Linked DNA regions of Homo sapiens. The protein of the gene in region 2 purifies or fractionates together with the protein of the main gene of each other region. This does not show direct contact. Each region holds a gene or a part of one and is shown on either strand. Other genes may lie near its edges.

Evidence for each region. The genes of interacting proteins can lie anywhere in the genome.
Region 1: the proteins of TMEM63B (region 2) and ENOPH1 purify together in Homo sapiens (affinity purification with mass spectrometry; one large-scale study listed by BioGRID and IntAct). This does not show direct contact.

Annotation. Positions count from the first base shown.
Region 1 is NC_000004.12:82,447,414-82,451,089, forward strand, and holds part of ENOPH1 (enolase-phosphatase E1), read left to right. Parts: intron 1-506; coding exon 507-608; intron 609-3,629; coding exon 3,630-3,676. UniProt on the Homo sapiens protein: Bifunctional enzyme that catalyzes the enolization of 2,3-diketo-5-methylthiopentyl-1-phosphate (DK-MTP-1-P) into the intermediate 2-hydroxy-3-keto-5-methylthiopentenyl-1-phosphate (HK-MTPenyl-1-P), which is then dephosphorylated to form the acireductone 1,2-dihydroxy-3-keto-5-methylthiopentene (DHK-MTPene).
Region 2 is NC_000006.12:44,153,621-44,156,029, forward strand, and holds the end of TMEM63B (mechanosensitive cation channel TMEM63B), read left to right. Parts: intron 1-55; coding exon 56-223; exon of another isoform or gene 224-357; intron 358-452; coding exon 453-568; intron 569-744; coding exon 745-825; intron 826-1,071; coding exon 1,072-1,263; 3' UTR 1,264-1,899; downstream 1,900-2,409. UniProt on the Homo sapiens protein: Mechanosensitive cation channel with low conductance and high activation threshold. Osmosensitive cation channel preferentially activated by hypotonic stress.

The sequences.
Region 1 (3,676 bases), on a different chromosome or scaffold from region 2:
TTTGAGTGATATGTACAATAATGTGGTATGCATGGGGGATAAAGCTGTGAGCAAGACACATTTAATCCATATCCTCAAGGACCTTTGGTCTGGCCATCTAGTTCTGTAGTTGGGAGACTTTTCCTGTAAAGGACCAGACAGTGAATATTTTAGGCTTTGCAGGCCCTATGGTCTTGGTTGCAAATACTGAATTCTGCCATTGTGATGCAAAAGTAGCCACAGACATTATTTAAATAAATGAGTGTGGCTATGTTCCAATAAAACTTCATTTACAGAAATAGGCAGTGGACTTGATTTGGCCTGCAGGTTGTAGTTTGCCGACTCTTGGTCTAGTTTATTTGTTTCTTGGCCTCTGTCTCTCTTTCTTGCTCATATTCACAGCAGCAATTTTCATAGAGTTCCATTGATTTATTTGTTACAGTTATGTAGGTAAGATTGTGGAAGAACTGGATCTTTTACAACTGATAAAAGCTAACTCTTGTATTTTCTTTTACTCTTTTATCCAGGACATTTTATTTCCTTACATCGAAGAAAATGTTAAAGAGTATCTGCAGACACATTGGGAAGAAGAGGAGTGCCAGCAGGATGTCAGTCTTTTGAGGAAACAGGTTGGGACATTTCTGTCTTAAATTCCCAAGTGTCTTAGAAATGAGGGTACCTGGAGATTTAGGACATGCTCTGAGCATTTTGTAAAATAAGTGCCCTGGTTTGATAGGGGATAGAAGTTGCAGTGACTTAGTGAGTTGCCTGCTTAGGAATTCACAGTACATAATTAAAGGCTGGATCATGTCAGTTTGTTGTTTCTGGAGTTGCTCTTTGGTTGTTTTTTTTTGTTTTGTTTTGTTTTGTTTTTTTTGTTTTTTTTTGAGATGGAGTCTCACTTCGTTGCCCAGGCTGGAGTGTGGTGGTGTGATCTTAGCTCACTGCAACCTCGCTTACTGGGTTCAGGCGATTCTCCTGCCTCAGCCTCCCGAGTAGCTGGGACTACAGGCACCTGCCACCATGCCCAGCTAATTTTTTGTATTTTTAGTGGAGATTGGGTTTCACCGCATTGGACAGGCTGGTCTAGAACTCCTGATTTCAAGTGATCTACCCTCCTCGGCCTCCCAAAGTGCTGGGATTACAGGCATGAGCTTACCACCCCCAGCCCACCCAAAAAGGGCTTAAGTTTGCAAATATATGATATTGTTAGGCAATTTAAATAGCTCTAGAAAAAGGCAACTCTAGGCTGGGCACGGTGGCTCACACCTGTAATCTCAGCACTTTGGGAGGCCGAGGTGGGTGGATCACTCGAGGTCAGGAGTTTGAGACCAGCCTGGCCAAAATGGTGAAACGCTGCCTCTACTAAAAATACAAAAAATTAGGCCGGGCGCGGTGGCTCACGCCTGTAATCCCAGCACTTTGGGAGGCCGAGGCGGGCGGATCACGAGGTCAGGAGATCGAGACCATCTCGGCTAAAACGGTGAAACCCCGTCTCTACTAAAAATACAAAAAATTAGCCGGGCGTAGTGGCCGGCGCCTGTAGTCCCAGCTACTTGGGAGGCTGAGGCAGGAGAATGGCGTGAACCCGGGAGGCGGAGCTTGCAGTGAGCCGAGATCCCGCCACTGCACTCCAGCCTGGGCGACAGAGCGAGACTCCGTCTCAAAAAAAAAAAAAAAAAAAAAAAATACAAAAAATTAGCCGGACATGGTGGCGGGCACCTGTAGTCACAACTCCTTGGGAGGCTGAGGCAGGAGAATTGCTTGAACGTGGGAGGTGAAGGTTGTAGTGAGCCGAGATGGCGCCACTGCACTCTAGCCTGGGCTACAGAGCAAGACTCCGTCTCAAAAAAAAAGAGTCCTTTCTGGGTAGAATGCAAAAGGTTTTGAGCAGTCTCTACATTTTTTATTAACGTCTCTATATTAGTCTGTTCTCACATTGCTGTAAAGAAATACCTGAGAGTGGGTAATTTTTAAGAAAAGAGGTTTAATTGGCTCACAGGTCTACAGGCTATACAGGAAACATAGCGGCATCTGCTTCTGGGGAGACCTCAGGAAGCTTCTAATCATGATGGAAGGCAAAGCCGGAGCAGGCGTCTCAGATGGTGAAAGTCAGGAGCAAGAGAGTGGGGAGGGGAGGTGCTACACACTTTAAAACAACCAGAACTCACTATTGTGAGGACAGCATCAAGGAGGATGGTGCTAAACAAACCATTCACGAGAAGTCTATCCCCGCGATCCAGTCACCTCCCACTAGGCCTCACCTCCAGCACTGAGGATTACATTTCAATGTGCAATTTGGGTGGGGACACACATCCAAGCCATGTCATTCTCCATATGACAGTACTTCATCATTTTGCACTCCCTCCTTCCTTACTGCAAGCCCCTGCTGCCCCCTCTGCAGTGCTCCTGGGTCCTCACACTCACACTCCCCTTCCAGACTCCTCACCCCAGCTCACTCTGGCCCAGCCCTCATACCTCCTTTGGTCTCCTGTGCTTTGTTCTACCCTCTTCTCCCCACCAGTCATCAGTCTGTCTTTTCCTTCCACATTGTGTGCTATGGAACTCCTGCTCTGTTGTTTTTCTTGTTAAAATTGCTTCAGTGGCAAAGATCTTACATGGTCTGCAGAGCTAACTCACTGGCAGTTATTTTCTAGTTCTATATTGGATACTGTGGAATGCTCTCTGTGGATGTTTTACTGTTAGGAATTAGGATTCAAAATGTAGTTATGTCCTTTGGGCATGGAATATTTGGGATTTTAATTTTCTGGATAACTCAGGGTTAATCTGAAATACAGTGAGTCCTTACTTAATGTTGTCTTTAGGTTCTTGGAAACTAAGTGAAATGACACTTAAATTTCAATTTTCAATTTTAAACCAACCATAACAAAACCAATTTTTTCTCCACATAAATGTTATAACAAAATGATGTTGAAGGAAATGACATTACTTGAGAAGGTCATGCCACTTGAAGTCACAGTTTCCAAGAACCTTTCAATGATGTTAAATGAGGACTTACTTTACTTTCCTCCCTTACCTTTTTTTGTTGTCAAAACCTTGTTGAAACATACATACATAGTCCCCCATTATTGTATATAAATATGTACACATGTATCTTTAGAAATTGGACTGCTTTGTCACAAGGTCATTGTTCTAAGTGGCTACTAGGATTTTTGCAAGATGTGGGAGATTATAGGAGACTGAATGTGAACCAACCTCATTACTTCACTAGCTTCTTTTTGCTGAATTCCAGGCATAAACTAATTTATGAGATTTTCTTTGTTTCTTTCTCCATTAGTTATAGTGCAGAGAAAATTATCAGATTGAGTTAAAGTCCTGGTTTGTTGATCCCAGTAGTGAATCAACAAATCAAATCTTAATTCTATCATTATGTGCTCTCTCTTCTCATATACAACATGCGTCTCAGTTTAAATTTCAGCTTTTAGCAAAAGGAAAGGTAATGTAAATTTATTAATCCAGGTTCTTTTAGGAATCATTTGTATCAGCTCCAAAGTATATGATGTTTCAATTTGCAGCCATACTAGGGCTAATGATGGAGAAAGTTGTTCTGCTGGGTTTTTGGGTCTCGTTTTAAATGACTGTTTTTTGAATAAGCAAAAAACAAACATCATGTTGTTTCTGACTTAAAGGCTGAAGAGGACGCCCACCTGGATGGGGCTGTTCCTATCCCTGCAGC
Region 2 (2,409 bases):
ACAAAAGGTTCGGCAGCACTGGTTCCGAGGTCAGGGCCCATGTGGCTTCCCTTAGGGCTCATGTACATGCTGCTGAAGCACCTGGTAGACAGGTACAATCTCTACTACGCCTACCTGCCGGCCAAGCTGGACAAGAAGATCCACTCGGGGGCTGTGAACCAGGTGGTGGCCGCGCCCATCCTCTGCCTCTTCTGGCTGCTCTTCTTTTCCACCATGCGCACGGGTGAGGGATCCCTACCCAGGGAACGGGGGGTGGCGAGCAGAGTGGATTCCAGCCAGAGCAGGCCACAGGAGAAGCCGCATGGCTGGGGGTGGCAGGCAAGGGGCCTGGGAGAGGCTGGGGCCAGTCTGTAGCACCTGGGAGAGTGAGGACTGCATTCAGAGGGTATCAGAAGCTGGGGTGGGGAGGCCCACAGGAGATAGCAACCCCATTCTTTGCCCCCCAACACCAGGGTTCCTAGCTCCCACGTCTATGTTCACATTTGTGGTCCTGGTCATCACCATCGTCATCTGTCTCTGCCACGTCTGCTTTGGACACTTCAAATACCTCAGTGCCCACAACTACAAGGTGTGGGGCAAGGGTGGCAGGCGGATGGCTGCGGGCAGGAGCTCAAGGGGAGGAATGCAGAGGGCCACAGGGCTGGCGAGGGCTGAGGGCAGCGCCAACAGGGCCAAGCGGGCGTGGGGTCATGATCAGGGCTGAGGACATGCCCCCACTTCCTGACTCATTCTGGGCCCCTCAAGATTGAGCACACGGAGACAGATACTGTGGACCCCAGAAGCAATGGACGGCCCCCCACTGCTGCTGCTGTCCCCAAATCTGCGGTGAGTGCCCTCAAGGGTTGGGAGGGGCCTCTGACAGACTCAGCCTCAAAGCCCAGTGTTCCCTTAGTCCTGCAGAAAGGGGAACCTGTGCCAGACCCCATGGGGGCGGGAAGAGAGCTGGTCTCCCTGGAGGGCTGCCCCCGCCCCCCAGGGCCCTGCCCACTCTGCTGTCCTACATGCCCTGGTGTTCCCGCAATCCATGAGGGGCAGCTGTTCACCTTGCCCCCATTTCCTCTCCTCCTTCAGAAATACATCGCTCAGGTGCTGCAGGACTCAGAGGTGGACGGGGATGGGGATGGGGCTCCTGGGAGCTCAGGGGATGAGCCCCCATCATCCTCATCCCAAGATGAGGAGTTGCTGATGCCACCCGACGCCCTCACGGACACAGACTTCCAGTCTTGCGAGGACAGCCTCATAGAGAATGAGATTCACCAGTAAGGGGAGGGAGGGGCCCTGGAGGCCACATCCTGCCCCACCCCACCCCCACTCCCACGGACACTAAAACGCTAATAATTTATTAGATCTAAAGCCCCTTCCTCCCCAGCCCCTGCTTTCATTAAGGTATTTAAACTTGGGGGTTTCACTGCTCTCCCCCATGATGGAGGGAGGGAGCCCCCCAACCTCAGTGAGGAGAGCCCCGAGCCGGCCCCGGGGCAAAGAGGGGTGCAGAGGGAGTTCCCCCAGATCAGTACCCCCCACCCCTCCCCAGCTAGTAGCATGACCAGGAGAGGGTTAATGAGAGCCAAGAGGAGTACCTGGTGCACCTGGTGCCGGTGGCTGGAGACCTGGGGGGCAGGTGGATCTGGGGCTGTTCCCCCCCCTCCGTTTTTTCCACCCCACAGTTCCTCCTGGGATCTGGCCCTCCAGGGAAGTGGAGCCTCCAGCCCCTAGGGGATGCATGAGGGGGGAGGGGGTGCTGAGTGGGAGGAAGAGTCAGGCTCACAGCTGGGGTGGCCTGGGGGTGGGGGTGGGCAAGGCTGACACTGGAAAATGGGTTTTTGCACTGTTTTTTTTTTGGTTTTTTTGTTCTTTTTTGTTTTTTTCCTTTAAAATAAAAACAAAGAAAAGCTCTGAGGCAGGTGTCTGACTTGTGCTGCCCTGGGCACCTGGGCCGGGTCCCCACCCTCCTATCTGGAGGGCCTCTTTGAGGTCCCTGCATGACGCTGGGCAAGGGACTTGTTCAGAGTCTCATTTCTGTGTCACTGAGAGGAGAGAGTGGGGCTGGGGAGAGACTTAAGGGATATCTCAGAGGCAGGAAGGGCCCCTGTGCCCAGGTGGCCACCATACCAGCCTCGCCCACTCTGATCATTCCCCTGAGTCCCTGAGCAACACACATGGGACAGAGATTCAGGGAGAAAAGGTCGTGCAAAGCCACAGGGTCCATGCTGGGCCAGGACGAAGGCCCTTCTGAGCACCTCAAAGTAAGCCTGGCGCCAGCCCATCTGTCCCTTCCCCAGGAGGGCCTGATCTCCTCAATGAGAAGCCCCCTCCCACCCTCCAGTCAAATCTTACCCATTCTCCAAGACCCAGCTCAAATTCACCTTCTCGCCAGGCGCGGTGGCTCACGCCTGTAATCCCAGTACT